2 separate regions of the Homo sapiens genome follow, and region 1 is linked to region 2. Evidence: fine-mapped expression QTL. A gene starts in region 2. The other region holds a variant in brackets. All regions are shown on one strand. Distances are between the middles of the regions.

Region 1 (8,378 bases), 28 kb before region 2:
ATTCCAAAGTTCAAACTCCCAACAACATGTGGTAACCAAAGCAGGAACAGAAGAGAAAGAAGAAATAGAAGGGAGGGAAGATGAACAAAGTAGACAAAGTTTAGTTAATAGAATTAGTGGATACCCAAGAAAAAACTATGTACAAGAGGGGGAAAAAAACCCTGTTTTCTCACATCTGGGAAACATTGATATCTATATATTTTTGGTTTTAAATAAAAATTAGGTTATGTCATTCATTTGCATAAAACCATCCAAAGAAGGGCCTCACAAAATTAAAACAAAATCCAAACTCTCTACTATGGGCCACACCCTCCAGAACTTCAGCTCGTACTATGTTTTTCCTCACACCTCTCAACATACCAACATGTTTCCACCTGCAGCCCTCACCACTAGTTATTCTTTCAATCTGGAAATATTTTCGCTAAGATCTTCCTATGGTTACCTTCTTATCATTCAAGACTTAGGTTATGTCAGGCCTTCCCTGACTCCTCCATCTGAAGTAACCCCTCCTGCTTACTCCTGTTTATTCTCTAGACTCCACAGAGGATTCATCACTCTCTGAAATGATCCCATTAATTTCTTCTTCACTTGTTTCCTCTCCACGACCTGTAAGCCCCAAGTGGACCCGGACTTGGTCTGCTCTGCTTACAGCTGGATTCCAGTTCCCATAGTGCTAGACACTAGGATTAAGCCAGGAAACATGGGTGAAGCAGCAAGCACAGAGCTTGGGGCACAGCCTAGCAAACACTCCACAAAGGACCATGATTGTAACTGTAGTAGGGCACACCAATGAACAGGTTGGGAAACTGAGTCTCTGAGAAGAGACTAATGTTGTGCTGGATGAAATTTCTTTTTCTGACAATACATTATCCAAATCCTCCAAGCTTTCAGTTTAAAGGGGAAAGCAGGAACTATCATTATAATTTTATTTACAAAGTGTCCATGTATGAACATTATTCACCGCCGAATCATCTCTTCCTATGCAAGCAACACCGTCCTATGCATCAATATCCTGATCTGTCAGGATTCAGGATAAAGTGGACATATACACACTAATTGCAAAGGGAAATTGTACATCTTGCAAAAGATGCAGGGGTTTATAGAGTCTTGTAACATTGGTGAGCTGCTCAGATCACACACATGACCGTGGTTGGACAAGGATCTGGCAAAGTTAACACAGATCACCGAAGAAGGAAAAGTGGACAACACAACACAGTAAGTTCTTCAAAAGAGTTATATTAGAATATCAAAAGATTATGTTAGGCCTTTGGGAAAACTCAAAACTTTATGAAGACCTCAAAAAATTATGCAAAAATGACCCTTCAATGGTCATGCTGCAAGAGTCAAATGACACTTCAAACAACTGCGGCTTTCTATGTTGTGCAAATGCATTTGTTGTTTTAAAGGTCGTAAAGTCAGGGTACACGTGGCAGATACTTATGACTTGGAGGAAGACGTTAGATTAGATTTGAAACTTTCACTGAATGATCGCATTTCATGCTTTTCATCTGTACATTAAAAAGCCAGAATGTCTTTGCCAAGAAATTCTAGCATAAATAAAAGAAAAGGATGGGATTTTGGAACATCATGGTAGAATTCTTGACTATCAGCTTTATACAACATGTCTGGACATTTAGTGATGGAAATGCTGGATTCCAAAGGAATGTAGGCAAAGGTACTACTACCCCCATGCTCTTCAGAAAACATCCTCTAAAAGCAACAGTGATGATCAGATACTGTGGGGCAAGACTGACAGTGACACTCAAGATTTCCACTCTTCTCTTTAATCATATATTTCCTGTCATTCATGTGCTACAAAACTCTGGAATATGCAAAGCTCATTCAAATGCAAAACCAGCCTTTGCTCCAACATGAGCATATATTTTCATTTAAAGACAAATCAGATGTTTCATTTGATTTTTTTTATAAATCTGATAATAATGTACATTTAACCCGTGTTTACAACCAAAATAATTAATCTCTCTGAACCCTTTGTTTTTCCTGTCTCTATCCTCCACCCTCATTGCCAGATAAATAACATCTGCAACCTGATGTGGCATATTGAACTTTGTTTATACTCACACAAACACGTATAAGCATCCCAGATACACATATACAGGGACTGTATCTGTCCTTGTTGTTTTTATAGAAATTGGATCACATTAGACATATTTTCTGATGACTTTTGTACATTATAGTTGGTCTTCACAGTCAATAGCTCCAAAGCTATCTTATCTTCTAAAATAGCTGCATAATATTCCTCAGTATGGATATACCAAAAGATATTTAAACCATTGCCTAATCAATGAATATCCTGGTAGTTTCCACATTGTTTTTTCCATTTCCACTATAGTGGAATAAACTTTCGTGTTCAAAAATCCTAAACTGGTGCTATATTTCTATAGAATAGAGGCACAGATGTAGAAGTGTTACCCTCAAATCAATATGCATTTAGTTTTGAAAAACAGACACTGCCATATTATTTTCTTAAAAAGGCTCTACAGATTCACATTTCCAGCAGCAATGAGTGTCTCAAGCACCTTTTAAGTGGTAAGCAGCTTACCAGGGGAGGTGGCCTATTATTCTATCAGTGGCTTCAGTTGTTAGGACACCACGGGTCAGCTGTGGAGATACGGTTGTGGGGCAGGTTGAGTTCAGGACACATAGAAGATTGCCAAAGGGTGACTATTATTACTTTGAGACTCTGGAAAAATTAGCCAGGAAACAGAGACAAGAGGCTCAGGGTGCAGCAAAGCAGCCAAATCAGGATGATAGTGTTTTCTTTGGAGCAGATATACTAATGGCCAAGGAACTCATAAAAAGATGCCTAATGTCATCTCATTAGGGAAGTGCAGTCAAAGCCACAGCATGATACGTCTTCACACCCACGAGGATGGCCATAATCAGAGAGACAATAACCAGTGGTAGGGAAGATGTGAAAAAATCGGAATGCTCATGCATTGCTGGTAGGAATGTGACATGGTGCAGCTGCTTTGGAAAGCAGTTTAACAGTTCCTGGAAAAGTTAAACATGGAGTTACCCTAAGACCCAGCAATTCCATTCCTAGGTAAGCAAGAAAATGAAAACATATGGCCACACAAAAACTTGTACACAAATGTCCATAGCAGCATTTTCATAATAGCTGAAAAGTGGAAACAACCCAAATATCCATCAATTGGAAAAAGGAAATCTAGCATTTGCATATAATAGAGTATTAATCAGCCATAAGAAGAAACAAAGCACCGATCCATGTTATATCATGCTTTATACTTGGAAGCATGGTACTAAGTGAAAGACGCCAGACACAAAAAGCAAAATATTGTATGATTCCATTTATATAAAGTGTCTAGAATAGGCAAATCCATAGAGGCAGAAAACAGATTAGTGGTTGCCAGTGGCTGGGAATAGGGAAAAAACTCAGCGCTAAAGGGTAGGGAGTTTTGTTTTGGAGTAATGACGATGTTCTGGAATTAGACGTGGAACGATTGCACACATGGTGCAAATATCCTTAAAATCACGGAATTGTCACTCTAAAAGGTGAATTTTATGGTAGGTGAATTGTACCTCAATTTGTAAAAAGAAGAATTAGATAAATAAACAGCAACACAGCACCAAGGGGTGGGGGTAGGAAACAGACAACAAATAGGAGTGAAGAGTTCACAGGAAAAGACATGCAGCCAGCTTTTAAGCAGAAGAAAAGATGTTTGGCCTCATAAATAGTAAAATAAAAGCACAATAAAATTATGACACTTGGCTTTCCCTTGCCAAATTGGTTAAAAAGGAGACAATTGATGACCCCAGTGGAAAGCGTATAAAAAAAGAGCAGCTGTGGCTGGGTACGGTGGCTTAACGCCTGTAATCCTAGCACTTTGGGAGGCCGAGGTGGGCAAATCATGAGGTAAGGAGTTCAAGACCAGCCTGGCCAACATGGTGAAACACTGTCTCTGCTAAAAAACAAAACAAAACAAAACACCAAAAAATAGCTGGGCGTAGTGGCGGGCGCCTGTAATCTCAGCTACTTGGGAGGCGGTGGCAGGAGAATCATTTGAACCTGGGAGGCAGAGGTTGCAGTGAGCCGAGATTGTGCCACTGCACTCTAACCTGGGCAACAGAGTTCAGAGTGAGACTCTGTCTCCCCCAAAAAAAAAAAAAAAAAAAAAAGAACAGCCATATAGATCGTCGGTGGGAGTGTAATTTGGCCACTTCTTTGGAAAATAGCTCAGTAATATCTATTAATACTTAAAATTTCACAAACACTGTAAGTCTAACTTCCACTTCTAAAATGTTATCCTAGAAATAAAATTGCATAGGGGTACAAAGGCTTACGTATGGAACTATTTGCTGGACTACTGTAGTTGTGGCAAAAAACTGGAAATGACCTAAACGCTTATTAGTAGAAACCTGGTTAAATAAATTATCATATGTCCTTGAGGACACAGGGACACAAAGAGGGGAATGACAGGCACTGAGCCTACTTGAGGGTGGGAGGAGGAAGTCGATCAGAAAAAATAACTAGTGGGTACTAGGCTTAGTACCCGGGTGAAAAAATAATCTGTACAACAAACCCCCATGACATGAGTTTACCTTATAACAAACCTGCACATGTAATCTGAACCTAGATAAAAGTTTAAAAAAATAAATAATCATATGTCCCTACAATGAAATATTCCACAGGCATTAAAATTCCCCAAGGAATTTTAGTAAGGAAAGAAAAAGCTGTGCCCAACAGCACGTACAGTATGTTTCCATTTGTTTTTAAAAAATGGTGTCGGGAGGTTGAGGAGACAACTTATAAATAGACATGCCTGGGATACCTCTGGATATAAGAAACTGTAAAGTATTTACTTCTAAGGAAGGAAATTTGGGATGGGGCTTGGGGAGCCATCAGAGTTAGGGTGGGGATTTTTTCTCTGCCTTATCTTATTATGTATATCGCTCAGAATGTTTGCTATGTGTATGCACCTACCCCATCCATTAAGAAATGAAGAAATAATGAAAAGAAAAAATGAAAGTAGGGAACTAGAAATGAGAGGTGGGATTCAAAGTGGACTGAACACTTGACCTATTTCCCAATTTGCCTAGGGCTGGCCCAGCAGCGAGGCAGGTTCTAACCAATGAGCATCAGCTTTGAATGGAGGGGCTGATAGG[C/A]CAGGTGGGCCCTGCTTGCTGAGAGTGTCATGGCCTTAGGGACATCTCCATGTTGCAGAGTCTGAGCCTCTGCTTGGCAAATTCAGAAAATCCAGCTTTTCTTTTTATATCACCTGGAGCTGATGTAACTCTCAGAAGGCATTTTTAAGAGGACTCATGAATTAACCACATAGCCAACTTACTGGCTTAAGACTACGTGACAGAAAGCTGCAAAGGGGGCCAGCCACTGGTAACATCCCACCACTGTCCCTCTCTGTGGAAAACACAGATGGGATGCACATTGTGACGGGCAGGATGCCTGGAGAGCCCACAAATCTGCAAGCACAGCTGAAATTGGTTACAGGATTTCAATGTTTCATTGCTTGAAGCTATGATAACTTGATGATGATGATGATGATGATGATGATGATGACGATGATTTTTTTTATAGCCATCTTTTTAGAGGGATTTGAGGTAGGGAAAAAAATAAACCTCACACTATCGGAGGTTGCCAACTATGAGGTCTGCTGATGGTTTGGCCAACACAGTGTTTATATTTTTTTGAATTGGGAAATTTCATTTAAAAGTCCTAAAATCAGGCTGTTATTGAAATATCTTATTATTGGCTCAGGGTTTCCCAGGGCAGCCATCCTTGAAGCTGTGTGGAGCCCTATAAACAAGGACGCTTTCCAGTTCCCTGCAAACTCCATTTCATTCAGAGCCTTGAGCCAGTTCTTACATGGTCCTCAGACTTGAGCTAGTGCAAGAATACCCGGGAGGGGTTGTGGGAACAGATAGCTGGGCCCCACCCCCAGGGAAGGGGGTGTTTCTGACTCAGGAGGTCTGGGCTCCGGCTACAGAAACTGCACATCTAACCGGTACCCAGGTGATGTGATGCTGCTGGCCCAGGGACAACTCTGCGAGTCACTGCTATTGGGCACTGCTATTGCACCCACACAAGGAGGCAGGCTCTGCTTACATTTTTCAGTTCTTGTTCCCAGAAACATTTGCTCTTTGGGGTATGCTTTGCATATAATGGATCCTACCCACTAATACAGTATGCTGCTTTTATTGATAAACTTCCAGAAACTTGAAGCGCACCTTACCATTTCTTTGATCTCGCTGATTATTTTTATTTTTGTTAAATGAAAATTGTTGGTAAGTTCTTTTTGGTGTGGTAAAAGGATATGAAAAGCTGATTTTAAAAAAATGTCCACTCTAGGATTAGAATTGTAGGTGTGTTTATTCTATTTCAAGATCTGGTTAAAATGCACCTTGAGGAAAAGAATTGAGTGCAGCTGTTGTTATTTCTCAATGCTGTTTCTCTTTTCATGTTTTTTTCATGTTGTCTCTTGGTCTGTCCTATCTCTCTTGGTCTATCCTCCAAGACAGAGATGAGTGATCTTGAAACCCTGCCCATGTTTTTATCTTTGGAGCCCAACTGTGCTGCCTTGTTTTCTTCTCCATCCAAAGAGGCAAAGAGAAAGTTGCATATTACTCAACAGCAGTTGCATGACAGTTAAAATCAGACTGTATGAGTCATGGAACAGTAAGTTGTGTCCAGAGTATCTGTCATGGTAAGTACAAAAAAGTCCTTAAAAATTTAAAACAGAAATGCCAATGTTTTATTTTTGAAAAATGTGAAGAAGAAATTTTCCGGCCGGGCGCGGTGGCTCATGCCTATAATCCCAGCACTTTGGGAGGCCAAGGTGGGCAGATCACCTGAGGTCAGGAGTTTGAGACCAGCCTGGCCAACACAGTGCAACCCCATCTCTACTAAAAATACAAAAATTAGCCAGATGCGGTGGCACGCGCCTGTAATCTCAGCTACTAGGGAGGCTGAGGCATGACAATCGCTTGAACCCAGGAGGCGGAGGTTGCAGTGAGCTGAGATCATACCACTGCACTCCAGCTTGGGCAGCGGAAGGAGACTCTGTCTCAAAAAAAAAAAGAAAAAAAGAAATTTTCTAAGTGTATTCCAAATAACTTTTAATATTGGATAAACATTACGAGTTTAAAAATACTTATGCCAGAGGAGTGCTGTGACTCGTGCCTCTAATCCCAGCAATGTGGGAGGCCAAGGAGGGACAGTCACTTGAGCCCAGGAGTTTGAGACCAGCCTGGATAACAAAGGGAGACCTCATCTTTACAAAAAAACTAAAAAATTAGCCAGGTGTGGTGGTGTGTGCCTGTGATCCCAGCTACACAGGAGGCTGAGGCAAGAGGATTCCTTGAGCCCTGGAGGTCAAGGCTGCAGTGAGTGATGATCATGCCATTGCACTCCAGCTGGGTGACAGAGCAAGACCTCATCTCAAAAAAAAAAAAAAAACAAAACAAAACAAAAAACTTACGCCCAGGTAAAAATTGTCAGAGAAAAATAAGAAAAAAACTGAATGCCCAAAATTAGCATAATGGCTGAATGAATTATAGTATGTCTATACCTTGAAGTACATTGTAGCTTTAAAAAAAATGAATTAAAGTTATACCAGTTGAATTTGGAGTTGAGATGGGGAAGATTATTACAATTAAAAAAAAACAAACACTATTAATGGATGTGCTGGGAAATGTCTGTATGGGGCTAGTTAAAGTAAATTAAAATAAAGACCAGACCTGAAGAATCCCTGAGCGGACAAAGCCTGTTAGACCACATAAATGAGCTAAACCTTGCTTGATTTGCAGACATAAGCAAAACAACTCGAACTGTTTCTTGTAAATGCCTATGCTAAAGAAAAACAGAACTTGAGCTCAACCAATCAGAAACAGTCAACAAACTTAAAATTATATAACTGGGTACCTTCCAATGAGATGATCAAATAAGGCAACTGTGTAATTGTAACACATCAAACACATTTTATATTATGCCTCTGCATTTTCCCTTAATTCTGGCATGTAATGCTTTGTCATCAAAACACTAATTCCCTTTTGGTTTTCTTTTCTCAAATTAATGAATTGCCTCTATTCAGATACACTCTTTGAAATTTTATTGTGTCTCAGATTTGTCTTTTACAAAGTATAGAACAAAGAGAAAAATATGAAAGAAGAAATATTAGGTTGTTAGCTTGGGTGTCCTTGGAGGGGGTAGGGAAGATGTGAGATGAGGAAGAAGCCAATAAGAAAAAGAAAAAGACAGGTTTCACCAAAACAACAATAACAGAAAATATGATTGCATTTATTCATATATGTTAATTGGTATGTATGTAAGTATATATGCATGTAAAAATAAAATACAAAGAATTAAAATGCATACTAAT
Region 2 (8,378 bases):
CTTTTTTTTTTTTTGAGGCGAAGTCTGGCTCTGTCGCCCAGGCTGGAGTGCAGTGGCGCCATTTCGGCTCACTGCAAGCTCCGTCTCCCGGGTTCACACCATTCTCCTGCCTCAGTCTCCCGAGTAGCTGGGACTACAGGCGCCTGCCACCACGCCCGGCTAATTTTTTGTATTTTTGGTAGAGACGGGGTTTCCCCGTGTTAGCCAGGATGGTCTCGATCTCCTGACCTCGTGATCCGCCCGCCTTGGCCTCCCAAAGTGCTGGGATTACAGGCGTGAGCCACCGGGCCCGGCCGAGGCAGGTATTTTTATTGTCCCCATTTTACAGATGCAGAACCTGAGCCCAGGGAACTTAAACTCCTCACTTAAGATCATGCTATGGATTGAAATGTGTCCTTCCAAAATTCGTGTTGGATTCGTGTTGAAGCCCTAACGTGCAATATGACTGCATTTGGAAATGTGGCCTCTAAGGAATCAAGGCTAAATGAAATCAGAAGGGTGGACCTTGATCTGATAGAATTAGTGTCATTATAAAAAGAGACACCAAAGAGCTCTCTCTGTCTCTCTCTCAACCGTGTGAGGACACAGCAAGAAGGCAGCTGTTGGCTAGCCAGAAAGAGTGGTCTCACCAGAAATGCATCGGCCAGAACCTTGATCTTGGACTTCCAGCCTCCAGAACTATGAGAAAACAAAAATGACTGTTGTTTAAGCCACCTAGTCTGTGGTGTTTTGGTTACCACAGCCCAAGCTGACTAATACAGATCATCTTCTAGTAAGTGGGAGAATGAGGACTTAACCCTCGCAAACTCAAGTCCAGAGTTTAGACTTTTAACTTTTCTATTTTCATACTTTCTACTGTCTCTTCTGCTGTATAAGTGATGTTATAGTTTTATGAAATATTTATATGTAATATAATAGAACATGGAATAGAAAATATTTCCTGCATATTCATTCTTGCAATGAGAAAATTATAACTAGGCAAGGAATATATATGGTACAATCTAAAGTGAGGATTAGGCCGGGCGCTGTGGCTCATGCCTGTAATCCCAGCAGTTTGGGAGGCTGAGGTGGGTGGATCACTTGAGGTCAGGTGTTTGAGACCATCCTGGCCAACATGGCGCAACCCTGTCTCTACTAAAAATACAAAAATTAGCCAGATGTGGAGGCACAATGCCTGTAATCCCAGCTACTTGGGAGGCTGAGGCAGGAGAATCGCTTGAACCCAGGAAGCGGAGGTTGCAGTGAGCCGAGATCACACCGCTGCACTCCAGCCTGAGCGACAGAATGAAACTCTCTCAATAAGTAAATAAATAAATCAAATAAAGTGAGGATTGAACAATTGAAGGGTCACTGATAATCACTGTAAGGATTTAGCGCCAGGGCTTGGCAGTACTCAGGTGAGTAAACGTTAGTTATTGCTAATATTATTCATTTATCTTATTATTGTTATAATTGAGTTAGTTCTGTGTTCTGATCCATGAGTGAATTGGCCTCCTGGAAGCTGCCCTCAAATCCCTCCTCTTTTACACAGTGATTGATGGTCCATGTCGCCTCCTTGTAGTTACAGATTAATAATAGGCCCTCCTCCTGGAAACAGGCCAAACGCCAAACCCCATGCAAGCTGGCCTGGAGAAAGCACTTCTGAAACTTCATCACCAGCAGGCAGCTAGACGACTGTTGAATGGGAGGGGGGGTGGTTTTGAAGGGTGGAATGGTGACAGAATTAGTCACCAAGTAAACAAGCAACACCTTCGATCAATGCAATGGAATGTAGGTAACCCAGGGGCCCTCCTCACTGCTCAGCTGAGGGTGACGCCAACATGGCCAGGCTGGCACACCCAGCAGAACCAGCCCTCTGCCCCCAACATCAGTAAAGACCTTGCAGGAGGAAAGAACAACCCCGCTTTGCCTGCCCCACAGTCCTGCAGCTCCATGTGTGTGCCCGCACAGTGCTAGGAACACGGCAGCTATTATCAGGAGTGCCAGGTACAGTGCTACAGGTTGCCTCCTGTACAAGGGGACACAGGGAACTGAAATCCAGTCCTCACTGAACTGCCCAAGCCCTGATTCCTGGTATGGGACTTTGTGGGTCCAGGGGCAGGGGTGCCTTGATCAAAATCACCTTGGATGTTTTAGGGCTGCTTGGTGATTGATGTTTTGCTTTCGGAGTACTTAATTATGTTTGCACAAACGGATGGTAATCCTAAAAATCTTAGAGCTCGCTCTCATAGTCTTATTATTGCACCAAACATTGTTAAGTGCATGATAATCGCAGGTAATTTTAATTGGAGGCTTACTATGTGCCAGGCAGCACCAGGGTGAGCATAGCAGGACACAAAATATAGGAAGGCAACCATCTCTGGTGCAGAATCGGCAGCAGAGAGTGAGCGCCTCCCTGCATTTTATCCCCCAGGTGCTCACTGGCTTCACCCTTGCCCTGACCCTGGTGCCAGGCACTTCACACACATTGTCTCCTTTTCCCTTGCAGAGTCCCATTATTCCCTGATTGCACAGATAAAGAAACCAAGGCTGAGCAATGCCATCCCCTCATCTCACGAACGTCACCTCCATGAGGGTAGGCACCTTACTAGTCCTACTTGCCCAAGAGTAGCAGTCAGAAAGCTACGGGGAGGCACACCTGGGGTTTGAACCTGGGTCCACGTGACTCAGGCACTCAAATCCTGAACTGCTTCAGGGCAGGGCACTTGGCTTGAAGAGAAGCTGCAGACACAGAGACAATCAAGTCACATCTAATACTCCAGCAGGACAGATGAGCCTGCAAGGTGCAAAGGTACCCCCGCCCCCAACCCAAAGCCTTTTTCAATTCCTCTCCCTCCACATCTCTTGTCATGGTAAAGCAGGCAGAATCCATGGGCTTTAACGGGCCCATTGCTTTTCCCAAAGCTCATGCCTTTTTCCTAAAAACAAAACCCTTCTGGGTTCCAGAACTCTTTGGAAAAAAAGAATCTTCTGTGATTTGGGACATTGGTTTGTTCCCCCACCCTCACTTAAATGAGAAACTACTTTAGCATGCCCCGCCCCGTCTGTTGTCTTTATTTAGGAGGAAGCACCCTCTACATACCCTGAGTATATACACCCAGGGCCTGAAGCTGCTGTGATCAGCTCAGGATCCCCAGGAGGCTGAGGCGGATCAGGCCCTGGACTCCGGGGGAACAATGTAAGGGACACCAAAAAGCTCAGCCATGGAGATGAATAGTATTTTAACATGAAATTTGTGAAAATCAAAATTACCGCTGTTCCTGATCTTATCTTTCTGTAACATGTTCATAGTTTGTTCATCACGGGTGTCTTGCCATTAATTCTGACTTTTAAAAATGTTGTGTTAACATACCGTTTATCTCCATGACTGAGTTTTTTGGCATCCCTTACATTTCGTGCCCAAGGTGAGAGTCTCACTGGCTGCACCCTCATCCCAGGCCCGACTGGACTCCAGTTCCACAGCATCCTTTCCATGAGACCTGGAACCAGATGCAGCTCCCTCTTCACCCAGCTTCATGTTCCTAGTTGTAAAATGGAGACGATGGTAACAGCGAAAACAAGAACCACAGCTAAGAGTTACTAAGTGCACAGGTATTTACGGGCAGTAGAGTCCTCTCAGCCCTTTGATCTCAGTACTGTTATTAGGTTCACTTTACAGATGAGGAAACTGAGGCCCAGAGGGCTGAGGGAACCTGCTCCAGGGCACCCAGCCAGCCCAGGGTGGAGCTGGGGCTGGCATCTGGCGGTGTGGCTGCAGCGCACCCGCATTCTAATCGCAATGACTCTTCCAGGCAGGAAACTGGTTCAGAGGGAGATGTAAACAGCAGGGGTCCTGAAGCCAGGATTTGAATCAGCAGCTGCCTCATAGGGTGGTCTTGAGCGTTAAATAAGATTCACAAAAGGCACTCCACAAGTCCTTTTTCTTGTCCTCCCACTTCTTTAGGCAATGCCTGAGGTGAAGGCTCAGATTCCACTCGGCTATGGGGCATTCTTGCCCTGACGGATCCCCAAATCACACAGCCTATCCCTCCATCCAGTGACTTCTCCCCATGTCCTGTGCTTGAAATGACCCTCAATAGTTCCACCAAATAGGAGTTATTTATGTGGCTATGCGCCTAACACTGACCACATTGTCATTTGCTCCTTGTAAAACTAAAAACTTTGAGATGAGTGCTATCTTTGGGTCCATTTCACAGATAGTGGAACTGAGGCTTACACATATCCAAGGCCACACAGTGAACAGAAGGCAGAGCTGGGATCAAACTTGACCCTGTCTGACCCCTGGCCTCTATATGACACCGTCTACCACAAACAGCAAACCCTCCAGCCATGCCTAAAGGATCTGAAAGCAGTTACCTGCTGAGCCCCTGTGGGAGTATCTTCAGTCCCCTCGTGTCACCCGGAGCTGCTCCTGCACAGGGTCCTGGGTCTCCAGTGCGTGCTGCCCAGTGCCTGGCTGTCGGTGGAGCCTGGCTCCCTGCACTTTGCTTCCTTGTGCAGAGCCTGCTGGCTGAATACACAGAGCAGGGCAAACACAAGCCTGGGTGGAGTCCTCCCTTCTCCCCGGACCATCCTGCAGAAACAGGTTCTCTTCCTGATGTGGGGCTGCCCTCCCAACTCCAATAAAAACTGAGCACCTGACTCCTCTCGCATTAATGCCTCCCTGGCACCCCAAGTATTCTACCCAGTGCCCCTCACCTACTGAGGCTGCCGGGTTGACCTGGGGAAGCAGTTTCCTTCCCCAGTAACCGTAGGTCATGGTCAGAGCAGGGAAAACACGTTCTGTGAGATTTTGTAGTTCTGTCTGCTGACTTCAGAACACCACCTCCACCACCACCTAACCACCTAATTGGAAGGAAATAGCTTCTCATCCACTCAACTACCCCTAGTCATGTAAACCTTATTCCCAAAGGGGTTTGGACACCAGAAATCAGGTAACCTGAGGGTGGTTTATTGCTCTGGAGACATACCATGATGTTGGAAAGGGCATTCTTTTTCTTTGCAGGCCAGAAATTCGACAGGCTATGCAATTTATTTAATTCAAGCAAGGATGTTGTTTAAAGTGTCTTACAAGGACATATACAATAGATTATGAGAGCATGAAATAACATGTAACAAAAGAAGATTGAAGAACAAAATTTGGAACATCAAATGAGAACAGGATCAAAAATAAATGCTCTTGTTGATTTACAGACTTGCTATGAAGGGTTTGCAGATATGGCTTTGAGCTTCCTAACAGCCAATGCAAGAAAGGAAACTTGATAAGTTACACTACTTAGTGCTCTGGAGAAGACATTCAAGAGAATTGCGACCAATAATTATTGTGGTTTTATTCAACAGTATACTCAGCTTAACCCCTATCATGAATACTTGTCAAGCACCAGGCTATATATATAAGCCAGAGTTTAAAGAGGTGAGTAAAAGATGCTGGGTCTCTACCCTTCTTGCACTCAGTGTCATTGGACATAGAATCCTGTAAATATAAACATAGAATTACAGGGTGTGATTCTCATTATAAAAGAAAAGCCAAGGCAGCTAAGGGAGAGAAATAGAGAGAGCTGGGGAAGGCCTCTTTCAGAAATCAACATTTAAGAAAAAAAATACTATTTAAATAAATGCTGAATACACAACCAGGCACACCGTAATTAGGGTTGTAAAGTCGATTCCAGCTCAGCACTGTACATGTCAATCTGGAATGTAGTAAACCCAATTATTAAGCAGCTGCCATGCACACGCTCTGTGCTGACCCAAGCCTGGAGGCTCAGGAGCTTGAGCTCTGGCCCTGGGTTGAGACAGACAAGGGCTCGGATCTTGATTCTTACTGATCGGCTGTGGAATTATGAGCAAGCTACTGTACTTCCCTAAGTCTCTGTCAGCCCCCTCAGCTGTGTGCTCCTTTGTGTTTATTTTGCATCTATTCTTGTATCCCCAACTCCTGGCACCCTGCAAAACGAGGATGGGGATCCCTCTATGATAGAGTAGGTACTCTGCAACTCCTGGCTGATTGGACTTGTTCATTCTTTTTTTTTTTTTTTTTAAGACGGAGTCTTGCTTTGTCATCCAGACTGGAGTGCAGTGGTGTTATCTCGGCTCACTGCAACCTCTGCCTCCCAGGTTCAAGCAATTCTGTTGCCTCAGCCTCCTAAGTAGCTGGGACTACAGGTGTGCACCACCATGCCTGGCTAATTTTTGTATTTTTAGTAGAGGTGGGGTTTCTCCATGTTGGCCAGGCTGGTCTGGAACTCCTGACCTCAAGTGATCCACCCGCCTCAGTCTCCCAAAGTGCTGGGATTATAGGCGTGAGCTAACACTCCCCATTGTCTTGCTCTCTTTTAAATTATACATGGCAGTAACTGCCATTTGGATGGCATTAGTCTTTGCAAAGCCTTTTGTGTTTATCCGTCCATTTCATTTATGTCCACAGTGAAATTAAGATCTTTTGCTCCCATTTTACAGAAGAAAAACATAAGGTTTAGGGATATGAGTGATTTAGGAGATTAAGAAAAATCATTCAGGTGGGGGCACTCAGCAGTGTGTCTGGCAAAACGTAGACCATCACCAAGCATCAGCTGGTGTAGTCAAGGGTGTTGATGAAGGATCTGGCAAACTGTAGACCATCACCAAGGATCAGCTGGTGTAGTCAGGAGTGGTGATGAAGGGTCTGGCAAACTGTAGACCATCACCAAAGATCAGCTGGTGTAGTCAGGAGTGGTGATGAAGGATCTGGCAAACTGTAGATCATCACCAAGGATCAGCTGGTGTAGTCAGGAGTGGTGATGAAGGGTCTGGCAAACTGTAGACCATCATCAAGCATCAGCTGGTGTAGTCAGGAGTGGTGATGAAGGATCTGGCAAACTGTAGATCATCACCAAGGATCAGCTGGTGTAGTCAGGAGTGGTGATGAAGGGTCTGGCAAACTGTAGACCATCACCAAGCATCAGCTGGTGTAGTCAGGAGTGGTGATGAAGGATCTGGCAAACTGTAGATCATTACCAAGGATCAGCTGGTGTAGTCAGGAGTGGTGATGAAGGGTCTGGCAAACTGTAGACCATCACCAAGCATCAGCTGGTGTAGTCAGGAGTGGTGATGAAGGGTCTGGCAAACTGTAGACCATCACCAAGCATCAGCTGGTGTAGTCAGGAGTGGTGATGAAGGGTCTGGCAAACTGTAGACCATCACCAAGCATCAGCTGGTGTAGTCAGGAGTGGTGATGAGGCAGGACCGGCTACATAATCTGCTGAACCCAGTGCAAAACAAAAACGATGAGCCCTTTGTTCTAAAAGCAGGGAAAAGTACCGTTAAAGGTATGAAACATAAAGCTGTTTTCTCTCCTTCCTGGTCTCTTTCTCTACCTGTCATGTATTTTACTTATTATTTGAAGTCATTCTAAGGGAAGAAAAAATAAAAATGTAAGTGATCAGCGTGAGTTTTGCCATCCGTCTTTAGATCAAGCCATGCTGGTTTGAAATGCAATGAACTCGAGGGCAGAATCACCAAAATCATACGACTTGTATTTTGTAGTTAGTTACGGGGCCCCCGTAGTCTGTTCTCACTAAAACAGTGTAAACGCTGCATAGAAGTCATCATTCAACTGTTTTTACTCTACCTCTGGATACTCACCCATTCTACTAATGCTCTCTATCTTCAGTTTATTGATGAATAAGGAAAAATCAAAAGAAAAAGAAACTCTAAGCTGCCCTATATTTCTGTCTTGCTATGTTATCATTTTCAGCACAAGTGGTTGGCCCTTACAGGGAGGTAACCTGGGTAAGAAAGGCTAGGATAGGATTCTTTTGTTGTTTGTGTTTCTTAGAATGTGCTGCCTTTTTTCTGTATTGAAGATAATTTCTGATTTGCGTGGAAAGCCTGGACTCTTGGGGTGTCAGTGCCTCCACATACTCAATTGCAGCTGTAACTCACATGTGTTTTACTTGCTTTGAGGCTTACTGAATAGTCATGAACTCACTGGCATTCTCTGCTCATGGGCATCATGGATGTTATATGTGAATAGGTGGCAATGAACAGTAGACTTGCATATTGCTTGTATCTCATGACTATGCTTCATTGTCTCATCAGATTTTACTTACTCAACCCAAGTTCAAAGATAACACTACAACTGACCCTTGAACCACAAGGGTTTGAACTGCATGAGTCCACTTAGACATGGATTTTTTCCCTTCTTCTGCCACCCCTGAGACAACAGGACCAACCCCTCTTCTTCCTCCTCTTCCTCAGCCTATGCAATGTGAAGATGACAAGGAAGAAAACCTTTATGATGATCCATGTCTACTTAATGAATAGTAAATATATTTTCTCTTCCTTATGATGTTTCTTAGAATGCGTTGTCTTTTTAATGTTCTTAATACCATTTTCTTTTC

The links. PIP is the estimated chance that this variant, and not a neighbour inherited with it, causes the effect.
Region 1: its variant is fine-mapped to the expression of BCAS1 in whole blood (TOPMed, PIP 0.94).

What each region holds. Positions count from the first base shown.
Region 1 is chr20:54,037,771-54,046,148 of GRCh38, forward strand. The region is part of intron 3 of BCAS1 (brain enriched myelin associated protein 1); the gene reads right to left. Among named protein-coding and RNA genes, the nearest start is that of MIR4756, 27 kb to the right of the region's middle. The variant C/A (reference allele first, on the strand shown) is at 5,149.
Region 2 is chr20:54,066,077-54,074,454 of GRCh38, forward strand. BCAS1 (brain enriched myelin associated protein 1) reads right to left here and starts at 4,518. Exons shown (of 13, transcript NM_001366298.2): 1 at 4,357-4,518. It overlaps MIR4756 (microRNA 4756), which reads right to left and starts at 2,409; the gene lies at 2,332-2,409. RefSeq lists an enhancer at 3,237-4,111.